Linked DNA regions of Homo sapiens. The protein of the gene in region 3 purifies or fractionates together with the protein of the main gene of each other region. This does not show direct contact. Each region holds a gene or a part of one and is shown on either strand. Other genes may lie near its edges. The genes, in order: SFXN1, CFAP20 and ADCK1.

Evidence for each region.
Region 1: the proteins of ADCK1 (region 3) and SFXN1 purify together in Homo sapiens (co-immunoprecipitation; one large-scale study listed by IntAct). This does not show direct contact.
Region 2: the proteins of ADCK1 (region 3) and CFAP20 purify together in Homo sapiens (affinity purification with mass spectrometry, with the first as the bait; one large-scale study listed by BioGRID). This does not show direct contact.

The regions. Positions count from the first base shown.
Region 1 is NC_000005.10:175,502,560-175,506,059, reverse strand, and holds part of SFXN1 (sideroflexin-1), read right to left. Parts: intron 1-3,500. UniProt on the Homo sapiens protein: Amino acid transporter importing serine, an essential substrate of the mitochondrial branch of the one-carbon pathway, into mitochondria.
Region 2 is NC_000016.10:58,116,204-58,119,579, forward strand, and holds part of CFAP20 (cilia- and flagella-associated protein 20), read right to left. Parts: intron 749-3,376; coding exon 669-748; intron 1-668. UniProt on the Homo sapiens protein: Cilium- and flagellum-specific protein that plays a role in axonemal structure organization and motility. Microtubule inner protein (MIP) part of the dynein-decorated doublet microtubules (DMTs) in cilia axoneme, which is required for motile cilia beating.
Region 3 is NC_000014.9:77,929,003-77,932,436, forward strand, and holds part of ADCK1 (aarF domain-containing protein kinase 1), read left to right. Parts: intron 1-2,515; coding exon 2,516-2,709; intron 2,710-3,434. UniProt on the Homo sapiens protein: Appears to be essential for maintaining mitochondrial cristae formation and mitochondrial function by acting via YME1L1 in a kinase-independent manner to regulate essential mitochondrial structural proteins OPA1 and IMMT.

The DNA.
Region 1 (3,500 bases), on a different chromosome or scaffold from region 3:
GATCACCTGAGGTCAGGAGTTTGACACCAGCCTGGCCAACATGGTGAAATCCCATCTCTACTAAAAAATATAAAACTTAGCTGGGCATGGTGGCAGGCGCCTATAATCCCAGCTGCTCGGAAAGCTGAGGCAGAATTGCTTGAACCCGGGAGGCAGAGATTGCAGTGAGTCAAGACAGTGCCACTGCACTCCAGCCTGGGCAACAAGAATGAAACTAAGTCTCAAAAGAAAAGAAAAGAAAATGTGAAACATTCTTAACTTTCTCTTTTGGCTGGCCTGCATCAGTTGAGAGTTTGTGAATACCAGCCTTGATTTCTAGACTTTCTATTGTGTTTCCACTTATCTACATATTCTGATGCCAATACCCACCATTTTAACTTGACAGTCAATTTTAATCTTGGGTAGAGCAACCGTCCCACACGCTATTCTTCTTTTTCTTTTTCTAAGATGCCTTATACTAATTTATTCTCCCAGATAAACCTTAGAATTATTATTATTATTATTATTATTATTATTATTATTGTGATGGAGTTGCACTCTTGTCGCCCAGGCTGGAATGCAATGGCGTGATCTTGGCTCACTGCAACCTCCGCCTCCTGGGTTCAAGCAATGCTCCTGCCCCGGCCTCCTGGGTAACTGGGATTACAGGCACCCGCCACCACATTCAGCTTTTTTTTTTGTATTTTTAGTAGAGATGGGGTTTCACCATGTTGGCCAGGCTGGTCTTGAACTCTTAACCTCAGGTGATGCCCCTGCCTCGGCCTCCCAAAGTGCTGGGATAACAGGCATGAGTCACTGCACCCGGTCAGAATTATTTTATCAGTTTTACAGGTGACCACAGTTGTAATTTGACTGAAATCGTATTAATCTGGAGACAACTGACACCTCTACAATCTCCAGCCTTTCTCCCCAGGCCTACTGCACATTTCTCCATTTACTCAAACTTAACATGATTCCAAATGTTTTCATCATTGACGCAAATTTCTGGGTGCGTTTCTTCCCAAGTACTTTACATTTTTAAAAAATTGTTCTGGCCGGGTGCGATGGCTCATGCCTGTAATCCCAGTACTTTGGGAGACCGAGGCAGGTGGATCATGAAGTCAGGAGATCAAGACCATTCTGGCTAACACTGTGAAATCTCGTCTCTACTAAAAATACAAAAAATCAGCTGGGCGTGGTGGCGGGCGCCTGTAGCCCCAGCTACTCAGGAGGCTGAGGCAGGAGAATGGCGTGAACCCGGGAGGCAGAGCTTGCAGTGAACCAAGATCGCGCCACTGCACTCCAGCCTGGGCGACAGAGCAAGACTCCGCACCCTCCCCGCCCAAAAAAAATTGTTCTTATGAAGTGAATAAAAAACAATGTCTAATTGCTTGTTGCTTTTATACAGGAAACTACCATTGTGTCTATTATAAATAGCCCCCTCATTGTATTTTAATTTGTTCTATGGTTGTTCAGTTGGTTATGGTCTCTTCTTTTTTTTTTTTTTGAGATGGAGTCTTGCTCTGTTGCCAGGCTGGAGTGCAGTTATGCAATGTTGGCTCACTGCAACCTTCACCTCCCAGGTTCAAGCGATTCTCCTGCCTCAGCCTCTGGAGTACCTGCGACTACAGGTGTGCGCCACCACGCCCGGTTAGTTTTTGTGTTTGTAGTAGAGACGGGGTTTCACCATGTTGGCCAGGCTGGTGTTGAACTCCTGACCTCAGGTGATTTGCCTGCCCTGGCCTCCCAAAGTGCTGGGATTACAGGCGTGAGCCACCTCGCCTGGCCGAGTATTCTCATACATATTACATACATTATGGAAAAAAAACAAAGGGCTCATGTCCAAGTTTGGGAAAAATGATTAAGCAGCTTTATTTTCACTCCTGGACTTTTTGGAAACTTCGAACAGTTAATAGAATGTGACATTCTCAAGAGTGGAATGCAAACTTTCTCAAATTTGACTACCAAAATCCTCTCCCTTTTTCTCTCTGCCTCTCTTGATCCCTCTCTCCCTTCCCCCACCCCCCTCTTTTCTTTCTTTAAGTATTCCATAGGATCCCTTTTTTTTTTTTTTTTTGAGATGGAGTGTCACTCTTGTTTCCCAAGCTAGAGTGCAATGGCGCAATCTCGGCTACTGCAACCTCTACCTCCCAGGTTCAAGCAATTCTCCTGCCTCAGCCTCCCGAGTAGCTGGGATTACAGGTGCGTGCCACCATGCCTGGATAATTTTTTGTATTTTTAGTAGAAACGGGGTTTCACCATGTTAGCCAGGCTGGTCTCGAATTCCTGACCTCTGGTGATCCACTTGCCTTGGCCTCTCAAAGTGTTGGGATTATGGGCGTGAGCCACCACGCCCGGCCAGGGTTCCTTTCCTTTAGAGGTCTTTTTGGGAAGTTCAGCTCTAGTGTTCCATTATTTCGTGCATTGCTCACTACTGATGTGGGATATGCATTCTTCATAATTAAAGAAGTACCACCCATTATGCCTAGCTGATTAATTATTTTATGGGAAATAGATATATAATTTTACCTTCTTTTGGGCATCTATCAAGATGTGGCTTTTTTGCTCTGACATATTGATGTGATAAATTACACTAATAAATGTCCTAAATATAAATCACCTTTTCATTCTCGGAATAAATTCTACCAGTTCATGTTTTAACACAAGGTTGGATGCTATGTGTTGGTGTTTTACTTTGGATTTTTGCATTATCAATTTGTAAGACAGGCCACTGTTTCTTTTTGTATTTTTTAAATCATTTATTGTATCAGGGTTGCAATGAATCGGGAAGCATTTCCTTTTTTTCTATGATCTTGTAACATTTTAAAATTAAATCAGCTTTATTGAGGTATAATTTAAATACCATAAAAGTCATCCACTTTAAGTGTCCAATTTGCTAAGTTTTGAAAAAATATACTCAGTGGTGTAACCGCCCCGGAATTGTGGTACAGGATATTTCCATGTCTCCAACAGTTCCCTTGGGCCCCTCTGGAGTTATTTCCTCACTTCCTGCCAACCAATGGATCTGTTTTCTAACACTATATTACCTTTTCAAGAATTTCACACAAATGGAATCATACAGTGAGTAGATACATATTTTGTGTATTTTGTGTCTGACCTCTTTGACTTTGCATAACACTTTTGAGAAGCACCCTGTTGTTTATATGAGTTGGTTAATCTGTTCGATGGATGGATGTACCAGTTATTTATTTATTTATTATTATTATTATTATTATTTTGAGATAGAGTTTTGTTCTTGTTGCCCAGGCTGGAGTGCAATGGCGTGATCTTGGCTCATCGCAACCTTTGCTTCCCGGGTTCAAGCGATTCTCCTGCCTCAGCCTCCCAGGTAGCTGGGATTACAGGCATGTGCCACCATGCCCGGCTAATTTTTTATATTTTTAGTAGAGACATGGTTTCTCCATGTTGTCCAGGCTGGTCTTGAACTCCTGAGCTCAGGCAATCCTCCCGCCTCCGCCTCCCCAAGTGCTGGGATTACAGGCATGAGCCACTGTGCCCGG
Region 2 (3,376 bases), on a different chromosome or scaffold from region 3:
TGGTATGCACAACAATAACACACGGTCCAAGAGGATACACTGGAAAGCAGATCTAAAAGATTCAGACACGCCACCCAGTGAATCCCTCAGCCCTAAGTCAGCGGCTGCTTTAACAAACGCTGGACCCAGAAACAAAAGCTTAACACAGGACTAGACAGCAGCAATAAAATATCTGAAAAACAAAGCCAGACAGTGGATCTTAGAAGCTCCTCCAGTGAGAGAAGACCTCAATTCTGGTCCAGGGGAGCCATCGAATGACAGAAAACCAAAACTGAGACCTCTATGGCACTGAAAACCACACTGTCCACCCACTGGATGAGCTGTACAACACTGCCCACTCCCCACCCCAACACACACTTTGGTTAATAATATAGCTAATACTGACATCGTGCTTACTATGTGCTAAGCAAGGCTTTACGTGTTTTATATATATTCATTTATTTACTCCTCGCAATAACCCTATAAGGAAAATGTACTATTATTCTGCCCATTGTACAGATGAGTATGCTAAGGTCTGGGGGATTCAGTAACTTGCCCATGGTAAGCTCTAAGTGGCAGAGATAGACTCACATCCGGCACTCTGACTCCGCAGTCTGTGCTATTAACCTCTATGACGTACTGCCTCCCTAGTATATGATGTCTCTGGGAGAACAGAGGTGGCAACCTACCTTACATTTGTCCCTTCAATCTCTAGCACCAGGGACTGGATGTCATTATCAGTGATTCTTTTGATGTGGCCATTCCGTACCTACAAGAAAGAAAATTCGATTAGTACTGAAATATCTGACAAGGCTGAATAGGACTATTTAAAGAAAACCACGGTAGCCCAAGAGGCGTACAAAGAAATTTGTGACACAGCACACTGAAGCTTATATGTAAGTAAGCCAAGCTATTACCTCTAGACAGGGTCACACCAACCACCAAGGGAATCCCAGGTAACTTGGCAATCCCTAAATCTGGGGAAACTTCTCCCCAAATACATCAACTCAATTTAGATTCAGCTAATATCTACTGAATGCCTACTATGCACCAGGAATATCACACACATCCCCTTCTCACTTAAGCCTCACACAATAAAAACAACAAGGCAGGTGATACTGTTTTCATTTTACAAATGTGGACATTGGCACCCCGGAACTGCAAATGCCAAACCCTAAGTAGGAGACTAAGGATTCAGCAGCCTTTCCACTGCCTCATACTGCCTCGTAGATTTCTTTCTTTCTCTTTCTTTTTTCTTTTTTCTGAGACGGAGTCTCGCCCTGTCGCCCAGGCTGGAGTGCAATGGCGCGATCTTGGCTCACCGCAACCTCTGCCTTCCAGGTTCAAGCGATTCTCTTGCCTCAGCCTCCTGAGTAGCTGGGATTATAAGCGTGCAGCACCATGCCCAGCCGATTTTTTTTTTTGTATCTTTAGTAGAGACGGGGTTTCACCATGTTGGCCAGGCTGGTCTCGAACTCCTGACCTTGTGATCCACCTGCCTTGGCCTCCCAAAGTGCTGGAATTACAGGCATGGGCCACTGCGCCCGTCCTGCCTTGTATATTTCTTTGGCCAGAAAAGCCAAAGAAAAGCTGAGTGTTACTGAGGAGGGCAGCAACAAAAAGTGAAAGCATTCCTCCCCTGGAGTTATCCTGCTTCATGCTTCCCTATCTGCTTTTGCCTAATTTTCTACTTTTTAAAGCAGGAATTCAATTCCCATCTGTGCCACACACAGATGCCTTCTTTAGCATTTTCAGCCCACACTGACCTCTCTTTTCTCTGATTTGTTTTTCTGGCTCATGTTGTCTAGACGACATAATTTAGCACCTCATCCTACATTGTTTTGTATTGTTTGCTGCATATGTAGGAGGTAGATGATGGGGAGGAATCAATATTCAATACAGATTCCTCCTCTCAAAATATTTAGGAAAGAACAATTATCTTCAAGCATTAAACTTTTAAGCAACTAATATGGACAGAACAGAGATATGCAAAGGCACTTTCAAAACAGGGCTGGGGCCAGGCACAGTGGCTCATGCCTGTAATCCCAGCACTTTGGGAGGCCAAGGCAGGAGGATAGCTTGAGCTCAGGAGTTCAAGATCAGCTTGGGCAACATAGTAAGACATTGTTTCTACAAAAAATTAGCCAGGTGTGGTGGCGTGCACCTGTAGTGTGCCTATAGTCCCAACTACTTGGGAGGCTAAGGTGGGAGGATCACTTGAGCTCAGGAGGTCCAGGCTGCAGTGAGCTGTGTTTGTGCCACTGCACTCCAGCCTAGAGGAGTAGGTGACAGAGCAAGACCCTATCTCAAAAAAAACAAAACAAAAAACGAAAAAAAAAAAACAAAACCAAAAAAACATGGCTGGGGTCAGGCATGGTGGTTCACGCTTGTAATCCCAGCACTTTGGGAGGCCGAGGCGAGAGAACTGCTTGAGCTCAGGAGTTCAAGACCAGTCTGGACAACATGATGAAACCCCATCTCTACAAAAAATTAGCCAGGTGTAGTGGCACGTGCCTATCGTCTCAGTTCCTCAGGAGGCTGAGGTGGGAGGATAACCTGAGCCTGGGAGGTCGAGGCTGCAGTGAGCCGTGATTGTGCCACTGTACTCAAGCCTGGGCGACAGAGTGAGATCCTGTCTCAAAAATGAACAAACAAACAAAAAAACAAGGCTGGACTATTAGGGCTGAATGGAATAACATATGAAAAAGATCAACTAGGTTTAGAACAGGAGACATCAGAAAGACAAACATACGGTCTTTCTTTGTGGAAAGGGCTGTGTTAGGCTGCCATAATCAATGACTCAATCACACTGACTAAAGCTCCTCTTGTTCACTCATCAGCCTGCTGATTACGATTTGGCTATTAGACTTGCATATGGGGATAAATCAGTGTTGGGTCTGGTAGTTTTATTTTTCAACATAAATTATTAATAATATGTTTCTGTTTTTAGACATTAGTCTCTGTGAGCTCTGTCACTGTGAGTCTGATCCACTCATGGTCTGCCTGGTGTTCTAAAGGTGACATCTGATGTCACTGCCCACCTTTTCCACAACTGCAACCAAGTCTTGTCTCCTTAAAAAAGAATAAGCTCAAGCAAGAGCCAAGACCAGTTATGAAGCATCATTTCTATCTTCGACAATGCTTAGCACAGTGCTAGCCATAAACTAAGCGTTCAAATATTTGCTGACTTCTGGAATCTGTCACCCTAAGAGCTGGCACATATGAATAGGTTCAAGGAGGGTTTTAAAAATTCCTGGATAACACATCCCCCGTGGACTATTATAGGAAGCCAGAGATCTGGGGCATATCACAAAGCCCACAGGGCCGCCAGCATGAAGAATGCTTCCACAAATGGGTGCCCATTGTCAGAGACAGAATACTGGGCTAGACGGGACCC
Region 3 (3,434 bases):
GTCCCTGCCATCCTGGGACTGGGTCTGGTAGAGGGGCATTTGTGAATGTTCTGGAGACACTTCCTCCATTTGCTCACTTTAGACAACCCAGATAGATCATAAAGTTAGCTACTCCAGGTCAGCCTGGTCTCAGGGATCCACAGGCTCAGTCTTTCTGAGCCCTGCTCTCATTGAGGATTAGGGGAACCTCCAACATTGTATGAAGGAGAATGTTTTCCCCAACTAACCGTGGCTTAAACATAAGGAATTTGTTCTCTCTCCTACAAGAAGCCTGGAGATGGGTGGGTTAGCTCAGTGGATCAACAAATTCAGGTCCCTGGGCTAACTTGTGATTCTCTGGGCTTTCCACCACAATTTCAAGATGACTGTGTGGTTCCAAGCTTTACATCTTCATTCAGTGTGGCTAGAGGCAGGAATAAGGCGCTATGTCTCCTTATATCATTTAAGAGCAAGAAAACCTTTTTTAGAAGTGCCGGCCTCCCTCCAACAGCTTCCTCTTGCCTCATTGGCTGACGCAGGTCACGTGTCCATGCCTAAACCAGTCATGTGGCAAGGGGCTGAGAGCTCAGAGCTAGCCCTGGCTGAACTCAATCCAGATTCCCTGCTGGGGCCAGGGAGGGGCTGCACCTCCCTATGGAGCATGACCCCAAGGGATCAAGTGAACAAAATTTTTTTTTTTTTTGAGACAGAGTCTCGCTCTGTTGTCTAGGCTGGAGTGCAGTGGTGTGATCTCAGCTCACCAAAACCTCTGCCTCCTGGGTTCAAGTGGTTCTCCTGCCTCAGCCTCCTGAGTAGCTGGGACTACAGGTGTATGCCACCATGCCTGGCTAACTTTTGTATTTTTAGTAGAGATGGGGTTTCGCTATGTTGGCCAGGCTGGTCTCGAACTCCTGACCTCGTGATCTGCCCATCTTGGCCTCCCAAAGTGCTAGGATTACAGGTGTGAGCCTGGGTTCTTTTAATAAAGGAGATTGGGGTGAAGACTTAGGTAGATACCCAACAGGGTCTACTGCAGACACCCACCATCAGGATGTGTCTTAGCTGGAGACTGCTGCTCTGAGAGCTGTCCCCCGGTAGTAGCCTGGGTGACTGAAGTTGCTGAGAGGCTGTTGCCAGGCCAGTCCGACCGTGCTGAGAGGGGGGTCCCTGTGGTGAGCAGGGGACTTGTAGCTGTGGCCATAGGTGCCTCTTAAGGTCTGGCTTTGTGTTGAGATGTTCCAGTCTGATAGTTCCTGCCTGAGAGGCAGTTCAAGACATTTCAAGTTTTGCAGTGACTCTGTTCTCAGCAGCGCACACGTGCTTCTGAAAGGACTGAGAGCCCTGCTGCTTCGGAGAGGAGTGGGGTGGTAAAGACTTTCAGCAGCACCCCGGGTCTCCTCATTATGACTTGGCACTGATTGCTTCCTCAGACCTTATCTCTGGTGACCTTCCCAGTGCTGCTGGGAGGCGGGCACAGAGGGTATTGGCATTCCCAATTTTTGGGTGAGGACACTAAGTTGAAAGAGATTAGAGGACTTACCCAGAGTCGTCGAGTCCTGTGGTGAGGTGAGGAGGTGTGGTATTGCCAGATGGTGAGGGCACAGGCTCGGGAGCTGGACTGCCTGGGTTCACGTCCCATCTCACCACTTACTAGCACTTAACTTCTCAATGCCTGTGTTTCCTCATCTTAAATGGGGATAATACACCGATAGGGTTGTTGTGAGGATTAAATCAATTAATACGTGCCAACATTGTCAAAGTGCCTGGCTTCTTTAGTAAATGCTCAATATATGGTGCTTATCGTCACCATCATCATCATATCTATGGAGACTGAAAAGGGGTCAGAACCACACTTATATTTAGGATTTTGCTGGGGGCATTTATCTGCTTAGAGCTGTGAAGAGTGTAGGGACAGGGATCGTGGGGAGGCCAGACCCCAAACTTAAAGACCAGGTAGGTCAAGGGCTGTGGCGATGACCAGCATGAAGGGCTAATCCTGGATCCTAGGCCAGGGCATCAGACCTTGGGCCACAGGTGGGATGAGACTGGCTCTCATGCGAGGACAGTGGTAAGCAATGGAGCGTGAGCAGCAGCATGGTCTGGCAGGGTGCAGGCTATGGGGCAGGACTTTGGAGTTGGGTTGAAGTCAGGTCAGCCTGAGCTAGGCTTGGAGGGGTAGGAGACCAGACTCAGCTGGTACTGGCTTCTGGGGGTCCTTCCAGACCTGATCTAAAATTGCGGCCAGTGAAAAAGCCATGGAGAATAACCTGGTCTCTCGCAATGTATACTGTGTCACATCCAACGCTTTCCTAGAAGTTTGGCTGAGATATCCCCTTCCGGGTTTGTCAGGCTATACAGTGCCTTGTGCTAGACTTCTCTATGGGGAGTGCTCCTAGCAGTGCCAAGACAGCGGTGCCTGAAGCTCCCTCCTGGGGCTTCTTTGCAGCCCTCTGGTCACAGCCTGCCAGACCCCTGCCACCCCTGGCCCCACTGCCCATACCAACCATCTGTTTCTGTTGCCCCATTGCTGCTTCAGGACTTAGAGATTCGCAACAACGCGGCCAACTACCTCCCCCAGATCAGCCATCTCCTCAACCACGTGCCGCGCCAGATGCTGCTCATCTTGAAGACCAACGACCTGCTGCGTGGCATTGAGGCCGCCCTGGGCACCCGCGCCAGCGCCAGCTCCTTTCTCAACATGTCACGTTGCTGCATCAGAGCGCTAGCTGAGTGAGTGTGGGCTCCTCCCTCTCCTCCCCTCCTAGCCCCCTGGCCTGCCCCAGGGGTCCTGCTTTTGCTGCCACCTTTCCCCACCAGTCTACAGGGCCCTGCCTGAGCTTCCCAATCTCCAGATATCCCTGCAGGCAAAGTTAAAGTTTGAAATGTTTTCTGAGAGTCTCAGCCCCATCTAAGTATCCCAAGTTTGAAGTCAGGAAGCCGTGATGTGTATCTCTCCACTAATTGGTCCTGGGACTTGTCAGCCAGGCCAGTGCTCTTTGTCCTATAGATGAGACTGTGACTCAGGTTCTCTTGATCTCAGATCTTTTTATTTATTTATTTATTTAATTTATTTATTTTCTTTTTTGAGACACAGTCTGACTCTGTCCCCCAGGCTGGAGTACAGTGGTGTGATCTCGGCTCACTGCAACCTTCATCTCCCGAATTCAAGCGATTCTCCTGCCTCAGTCTCCCGAGTAGCTAGAATTACAGGCACCCACCACCATATCCAGCTAATTTTTATATTTTTAGTAGAGACGGGGTTTCACCGTGTTGGCCAGGCTGGTCTTGAACTCCTGACCTCGAGTGATCCACCTTCCTTGGCCTCCCAAAGTCCTGGGATTACAGGCATGAGCCACCATGTCCAACCTCAGATCTTTTTAGATGCCTCAGCACCTTTGGGCATTAATGAGGAAGAGAAGTGTGCTTCCTCAGGGAGCTAGTTCCAGAGGAAAGAG